Homo sapiens: one gene and its partner. The protein of the gene in region 1 interacts with the protein of each later gene in a pairwise test. Each region holds a gene or a part of one and is shown on either strand. Other genes may lie near its edges. The genes, in order: EPSTI1 and PTPRJ.

What was found.
Region 2: the proteins of EPSTI1 (region 1) and PTPRJ interact in a two-hybrid assay, tested with the Homo sapiens proteins (one large-scale study listed by BioGRID and IntAct).

The regions. Positions count from the first base shown.
Region 1 is NC_000013.11:42,961,101-42,964,921, reverse strand, and holds part of EPSTI1 (epithelial-stromal interaction protein 1), read left to right. Parts: intron 1-782; coding exon 783-856; intron 857-1,583; coding exon 1,584-1,667; intron 1,668-3,821. UniProt on the Homo sapiens protein: Plays a role in M1 macrophage polarization and is required for the proper regulation of gene expression during M1 versus M2 macrophage differentiation.
Region 2 is NC_000011.10:48,133,891-48,137,711, reverse strand, and holds part of PTPRJ (receptor-type tyrosine-protein phosphatase eta isoform 1 precursor), read right to left. Parts: intron 1,674-3,821; coding exon 1,416-1,673; intron 710-1,415; coding exon 431-709; intron 1-430. UniProt on the Homo sapiens protein: Tyrosine phosphatase which dephosphorylates or contributes to the dephosphorylation of CTNND1, FLT3, PDGFRB, MET, KDR, LYN, SRC, MAPK1, MAPK3, EGFR, TJP1, OCLN, PIK3R1 and PIK3R2. Plays a role in cell adhesion, migration, proliferation and differentiation.

The DNA of each region.
Region 1 (3,821 bases):
AGTGACCAAAGCACCAGAGAATTATTTCAAAGGAATCTTTATAATACGCACACCAAGCTTGCATAAACACTGAGAATTCCCTAAATGGTAATTCTTAGATGATTGTCAAGCTGCCAGGATTTCTGGCCCCAAATTCTTTTAGGTTTAAGAGAGAGCAAGTAAATAATCTAACATCCATATTTTTATTTTGACTATATAAGGAAAGAACAATAAATAGTATGGATTGATGATCAGTTACTAACTAGAATATTCCCATTGTATTTTTAGAAACTGGGTTATAAAGACTACATGCTTGTCTAGTGGCAAGACCTCTGAGAGCCTCCTGAGCCTTGCTGCTTGAATATAAGGCAATAGAGTTAGAAGAAGAAAAGCAATAGAAGCACCTTTGATCACCATCTTTACTAGGTTCGGGCATGGTCATATTCAAGCAGGAGGAATATTCTACAGTTTCCAAGACAGGCACTATTTCTTCTGTTTAGCACAGACCTTTAGGTATGATTTCAATCCAAGTGAAAACTTTAATACCTACATGATTGAAAAACCTTAGTAAAAGTGCTCTTTTGTTTTAAAAATATGGTCTCCTCTTTCTATCCAGCTCTTTCTTCTAAGTGATTCCCCTTCTTTAAGGTCTTCTTGGAAAACTGGTTATGTTCTTATTTGCAAGAGCATGAGAATGTTAAGGGAACTCATGTTATAGATTTATTATATATTAATTAGTCCTCGATGGCTGACATTTCAGCTTAATATTTATGTTTCACCTTCATGGATTTTTTTTTCCTAAGGTGGAAGCCAGTCAGAAACTGAAGTCAGACAGAAACAACAACTCCAGCTGATGCAATCTAAATACAAGCAAAAGGTCAGAATTCATCTCTTTTAGTTGAATTTTGGTAAGGAATATGAGTACCAGCTCTTACAAGTAACTGTGAAATAACACAGTAACTTTACCAAAAGTATAAAACCTTCCAACCAGTTGCAAAAGGCAGCTTTCAGAATCAAAGCTCTCAGGAAGTGAGAAGTGAAGAGATGGATACCTTCAATTCCTACCTAAGCCCTTTATCACTCAGCATGACCCTCGATTAAGGGAATTATTTTTTTCATTTAAGTTAACTATGTTTAACTATAGTTTAAAGTCTACTATGTTTGGAATGTTTTGGTTCTAAGAATATGGATTTGTTTACTGCATGGCAGTCATGGAAGTAGTACAAAAAATATTTAAGATTCCCAGCGATTTTTACAATGAACACTGAGTTTTGTAATCAGGAAAAATTATTTTCCCTTTTCCCTCCCCAATACACACACACACCACACACACATACACACAGAGAGAGACAGAGATAGACAAAGACAGAGACGTTGAAAAAGAGACAGACCAAGGAAGAAACACAAAGACAGAAATTTCACGGGCAGAAGACGTAGCCCGGCCATTCTCTGTGATCTAAGTAGCTTGAAGTAACAACCTATAATCATGGTGAGGTATAGCACAAACAATACTGTAATTTGCCTTTCATCATAATTTTGTGTTCCAGAGTTCAGACTGAAAAATGGTAACTGTTTTTGTTCTCTGTAATTTCAATACAATTTAGCTAAAAAGAGAAGAATCTGTAAGAATCAAGAAGGAAGCTGAAGAAGCTGAACTCCAAAAAATGAAGGCAATTCAGAGAGAGAAGGTAAGGAGGAGGAGGATTAGTTCACATTTGCTGATCAACAATTATAGTTTCGTTGTAGAAGATTTTTATTATAGTAACTTTAAAAATTTATCCATCTTTCTCTCTCTCTCTCTTTCTATTCCCCACTCTTCTTTTCCTCATCCAGTTTTTTTCCTTCCATTTTATCCTTCAAAGGAAGATTCATGCTTAGGTCTTGTGATTCTAGAGGAGGCACTCTCTTTACGGAGCATAGCCTGTATTTCAGGTAGAACAAAGACAATTGTTAAGTCATCACCAGGAACAGGGTGAAGAGGCTTGCAGACCCTTAATAATTATTGTATTGCAACCTCTTGTCCTAAAGATCATTTATTCGTTGTCATTTAATACCCATCATTGGCTGGCGTGTGGGTCATTTACAGCTAATTTCTTCATGGGTCAATAATGTACGCTATTCATAAATGTTTGTGGTTGAAACTGTTTCCTTTCTTTTTTTTTTGAGACGGGGTCTCACTCTGTTGCACAGGCTGGAGTGCAGTGGTGTGATCACAGCTCACTGCAGCCTCAGTCTCCTGGGGTCAGGCAGTCCTCCCACCTCAGCCTCCTGAGTAGCTGGGACTACAGGTTAACACCACTATAGCTATTTTTTTTTTTTTTTTGTATTTTTTGTAGAGACAGGGAGGGTTTCACCATGTTGCCAAGGCTGGTCTCGAACTCTTGGGCTCAAGGGATCCACCTGCCTTGGCCTCCCAAAGTGCTGGGATTACAGGAATGAGCCACCATGCCTGGCCTAAACTGTTTAAACATTGTCTAAAAGTAGTGTTTTTCCCTTTCCTAATATGATAACTGTAATTCTGTTGGCATAAATTTGCCAGGATGTGAGAGATGGGGAGAGAGAGTTGATCTGTAGACCCTTCCCATTGAAAATATGGCCCTTGAACAAGCACCATTGGCATCATCTGGGAGTTTGTTAGAAGAGCAGAATCTTGAGCCCTACCTCAGACCTACCGAATCAGAATCTGCATTTTAACAAGCTCCCCAGGTAATTCCTGTGCACATAAAAGCTCGAGGAGCATAAATTTAAATGACCTTGCAAAAGAAGGGGTGACCCATCCTTGTTCTTCCACAGATGTGATTTCTCTGGCTGATTGGCCTGCACTGTCACCATGATCCTAGCCTTCCCTGTTGTAGATAAATCTGTAGCTTTTCATGTTAAATGTGAGCCTAGTTAGTAGCTTGTGTCAGATAAGAAAAATGAACATTAGCCATCTAGAAATGACATATTTCACATTGCCAGTGTGGAAATGGCCGAGGGAAGTGATAATGGCTGTGCTTATGGAGCACTTATATTTTAAAATGCACAGCAAACACACACATGGACATCAGCCTGCAAACACGCTGCCCTCCTCCCCAGGCAAATGGCTGCTGCCCAGTAAACTCTGAGCCAAGTAGAATCCAAGCAGCCTATTGCCACCCAAGAGCCTCTAGCCTTGTCTCTGGTCTTCCCCCACTGGCTGCTGGTCCCCTTCTGCCCTTCATTTCCTTCTCTCCCAAAAGAAGTCAGGGGACACTGGGTCTCATTCTGATTGGTCGTCATCTCTGTGTGCAGCATTTAGTGAGGGAAGAATAGACTGGATTCCTTGCCAGCATTTGTGCATGTTCTTTGATCCTTAATAGACAGACAGGTGTGAAAGTCAACCAGCTCTTTAGTATCCAGTCATGTCAGTGGGGCCCAGGAAGAGTTAATCCTATGGGTACAAAGGGAAATTTGGAGACAGCACTGGTATACTTGAGTTGTATTCAGTTCAGGAATGTAACTTGCATTCCCTAGACTAGAGTCTGTCACAGTATATATACTTCTAGTGATGTTCTGTAGCTTCCTTGTACTGCCTTGTACTGTGGGAATTGTCACATTTTCAGGATTTTTTTGAGCTACTTGGCTTCATCATTGTCAGTTTGAAACCGACTGTGGTGGAAAATATTTACGATGTGGAAATCAGTAAATGCTACAGATTAATTTCCCCTCCTGCTCCTACCTGCTAGACCTGATTAAATGTTGACCAGCACACCACTGCTTAGCACTAAATGAAAAAGGTATTTTCTTACCCTCCCCTACCACCCATATTCTAAAGCCAAACCTCAGAGGGCTAGGGAGAGTAAAGATTTGGGGAAATAGCT
Region 2 (3,821 bases), on another chromosome or scaffold:
CCTCCAGCCTCCAGATACAGTGGTGATGCTGCACAGGCCCCTCTGCACAGGCCTCTGCCTGTAATGTTCTCATGCCCTGATATCCACATGGCTGGCTCCTTCCCTTCATTCAGATCTTTGCTCAAAAGTCACCTTGTCATTGAGGCCTTTCCTGAGCACTCTAGGTAAACATCCCACTTCCTCCTTCGAAAAGTTCCAAGAAGGCAAGGACTTGACTGGCATATGGTATATGCTCAATAAATATTTATTGAATGCAGAAATGATGAGGGCATCGAGACAGCACCGATAAGCTAACAGGATGCCTCGGAAAGCTCAATGTCCATCACTGCACATCACACAAAACCAGACAAACTACAGACTTGGGAGGACTGACCTGCAAGGTCAGCACCACTCAGGGAGGAGTCCAAGAGGCAGTTGGGGCTACACTCACCTGTACAGAATGACTTCCGGCCAGGTTCCAGTGACTTGATCCCATCCCCTACTTGTGCAAAGATCTCCACTGTGTATGATGAGCCAGGTATTAATTCAGTGACTGTAGCGTCAGTAATTCCAATGTCCGTGACTACTTGTGTTGCGTTGCTGGAATTTCCAGCCTTCTCAATAAGAAGGCAGTAGGAGTACGTGGGAGAGGCGTCATCAAAGTTCTGCCAACTTAAAGTTGCTGCTGTGGTGTTGGTACTTACATCAATGTTGGACACATTGCTGGGCCCTTGATTTTAAAAAAAAGGCAATTCATGTAAAAGCACAGATTAAGTAGAATTCCAGGACTATTTACTATATCCAAAAATAGCCTGGCTCGTTTTAGAAAGAATGAATAAAACTAGTATTTGCTGGCTCAAAAGATGGAAAACTTCCCAAAAACACATCAAGAAAATAATTATACAGATTAAGTCTCAAAAGAAGTTTAATTTAGGCTTCTTTTAATACTTCAAGTTTATTTCAAATATATTTTTAACATTTAATTTCTAATCTGTTTTTTAAATCTAATAGATGGAGAAAAATATACTAAAAACATATTACAAACTAACATCTTTACCATGTATTTAATTCAAATATTCGCAAAACACCTCCCTAACTGTTGCAGGCGAAGCTCCTCATCTGGGCAGTATCTTCCAATACCAACATGACAAGGTGACCCTTCTCTACTCTGTATTCTCAAGGAATGACTAGAACCATTTCAGTCACCATTCCCAAGGAATCATTTCTTCCTTCTAATGACAATTCTAAGTTCACATAGCTTGAAGAACAGTGCCCCATGGTGACAGCAGAACCATTGCTGAGACCAATGTTTTCAACTTCAGCAGTTTCAGAGTCAACCTGGATCCCAGAAGCACACTGGCCATCATTTAACCAGTGCCTCCTCCAAGAGACAGTTAGAGAGGCTGTTCCTTAGAAGGGCATCCTAAGAGACTTACGTGTGTACTGTGCAGTGGAGTTGGGGTCCCCCCAGACGTGGTCCACTTCTGGAGAGATGGTGATGTTATATAAGGTGCCCGGAATCAGGCCCTGGAGAGTAATCGCTTTGTCATACGTGCTTGTGTGGTTAGAGCCATGCTTGGACTCTATGACTAAATGGTAGACATACTCGGAAGCACCGTCAGGGCTCTTCCAGTCCAGCCACATCTCCGTGGTGGTGACGTAGACCACGTGGATGTCAAACACTGCACTGGGAACTGCTCAGAAGAAAGGAAGGAGAAGGGAAAACTGTTACTATCATGACGCCCAGCTTCCTCTCCAAGTGCTGTCGAGAGGACCTGCTCTTTTGCCATTACGCTTTCTAATGAGTTCACAAAAGGCACACTCCAAAATCGAGCTGAGAAATGCACACACTCAGTGCTCTCAAGAATTTCAGCTCTTCTGTGACGCACATGAACTTCCCAGTTTATCTTACCAGTTCTCCAGTTTTTTGTTGTTGTCTTAAAAATGAGCCCTTAGGCTGGGTGCAATGGCTCATGCCTGTAATCCCAACATTTTGGGAAGCCGAGATGGATCACTTGAGGTCAGAGGTTCGAGACTAGCCTGGCCAACATGGTGAAAACCCATCTCTACTAAAAATACAAAAATTAGTTGGGTGTGGTGGTACACGCCTGTAATCCCAGCTACTCGGGAGGCTGGGGCACAAGAGTCGCTTGAACCCAGAAGGCAGAGGTTGCAGTGAGCCGATATCACACCACTGCACTCCAGCCTGGGCGACAGAATGAGGCTCTGTCTCAAAAAAAAAAAAAAAAAAAAAAAGGCCAGGCGCGGTGGATCACGCCTGTAATCCCAGCACTTTGGGCAGCCAAGGCAGGCGGATCACCTGAAGTCGGGAGTTTGAGACCAGCCTGACCAGCATGGAGAAACCCCGTCTCTATCAAAAAAAGTACAAAATTAGCCGGGCGTGGTGGTGCATGCCTGTAGTCCCAGCTACTTGGGAGGCTGAGGCAGGAGAATCACTTGAACCCGGAAGGCAGAGGTTGCAGTGAGCCAAGATCGCGCCATCGCACTCCAGCCTGGGCAACAAGAGCGAAACTCCATCTCAAAAAAAAAAAAAAAAAAAAAGCCCTTCAAGGGGTCATCTGAAGTGGAAATCACATTCAGTTTTTTTATATGGGTGCTGGTAACAAGATGTGTTCAGTTTGTAAAAGTTCATGAAGCTATGTGCTGAGGATACATCCCTTTTCGGTATGTATATTATATCTCAATAAAGAGGTTTTTTTGTTTTGTTGTGTTTTTTAAATCAGTCACTCAGAAGGAAACATCTTCCCGTGACACAGCCTTACATACCAAAGAGGAAAACTGAAATGGAGAGCTGACCTTTACTAAGTTGCAGCATTTGAGGACGGATGAGGAAGGGAAGAAAACAGGCACACCCTGCACCTTCAGAGCAGAGTCAGAAATGGAATCTCCCACAGGAGCCCATCCTCCGATCATCTCCCGCTGCCCACTCAGCCACCTGCACCAGGGATGCCTACATAGAGGCCCGGAAGTAACCGCGGAGGCTGGGCCTATTTTCTACCGCGGCTTTCAACCCTGTCTCTCTTTACCTGGCAACAAACGTCACCTCCAGGGAGAGGAAATGGGCAGGTAGGGGACAAAAAAGGGAAATGCTTTCACTGCAAACACCTTGTCCAAAAAACAAAAAAAATTGTGCCATGTTTACGTACTATCTACTCCAAAATTAATTTTTTTTTTAATTTTAAGTGGATTCTCCTTACAGAGAAGCCACTGGGAGGAGCCTTTGTTTCCTACCAGCAGATTCCTGATGTCAAAGGGATTCCACAGACAAAAGCCCATGAAAGGCAGCCTTTGTCTATAAACATAAAAACCTAGAAACAACCTAAATATTCAATAACATGGGGAGGGCTGTGGGCACTGTGATCTGGCTGCATGATGAAATACTCTTTAGCCACTAAAAATATGAAGGCCATGCTAACTATAGGGGAAAGTTGTGGTATAGACTGAGTAAAAAGAAATTCAAATACAAAATAAAAGTATTTGTATAATAATTACAGTATACAAGCAAAATGTATGACTGTGGACACAGAGAGAAAAGGAATTCAGTTGGGTTAGAAAAATAGAGATATTTGTTCCTTTTCATTTTTATTGTGGTAAAACATACATACCATAATATTTATCATCTTAACCATTTGTCAGTGTACAATTCGGTATCATCAATATTCACAATGTTGTGTAACTATCACCACTACCTGTACCCAAAACACTGTCATTATCCCCAGCATAAACTGTAGCCATTAAACAATAATGCCCACTCCCTCCTCTGAACAGCCCCTGGTAACCTCTATTCTAATTTCTGTAGAATATTAAGTTGCCTAATCTAG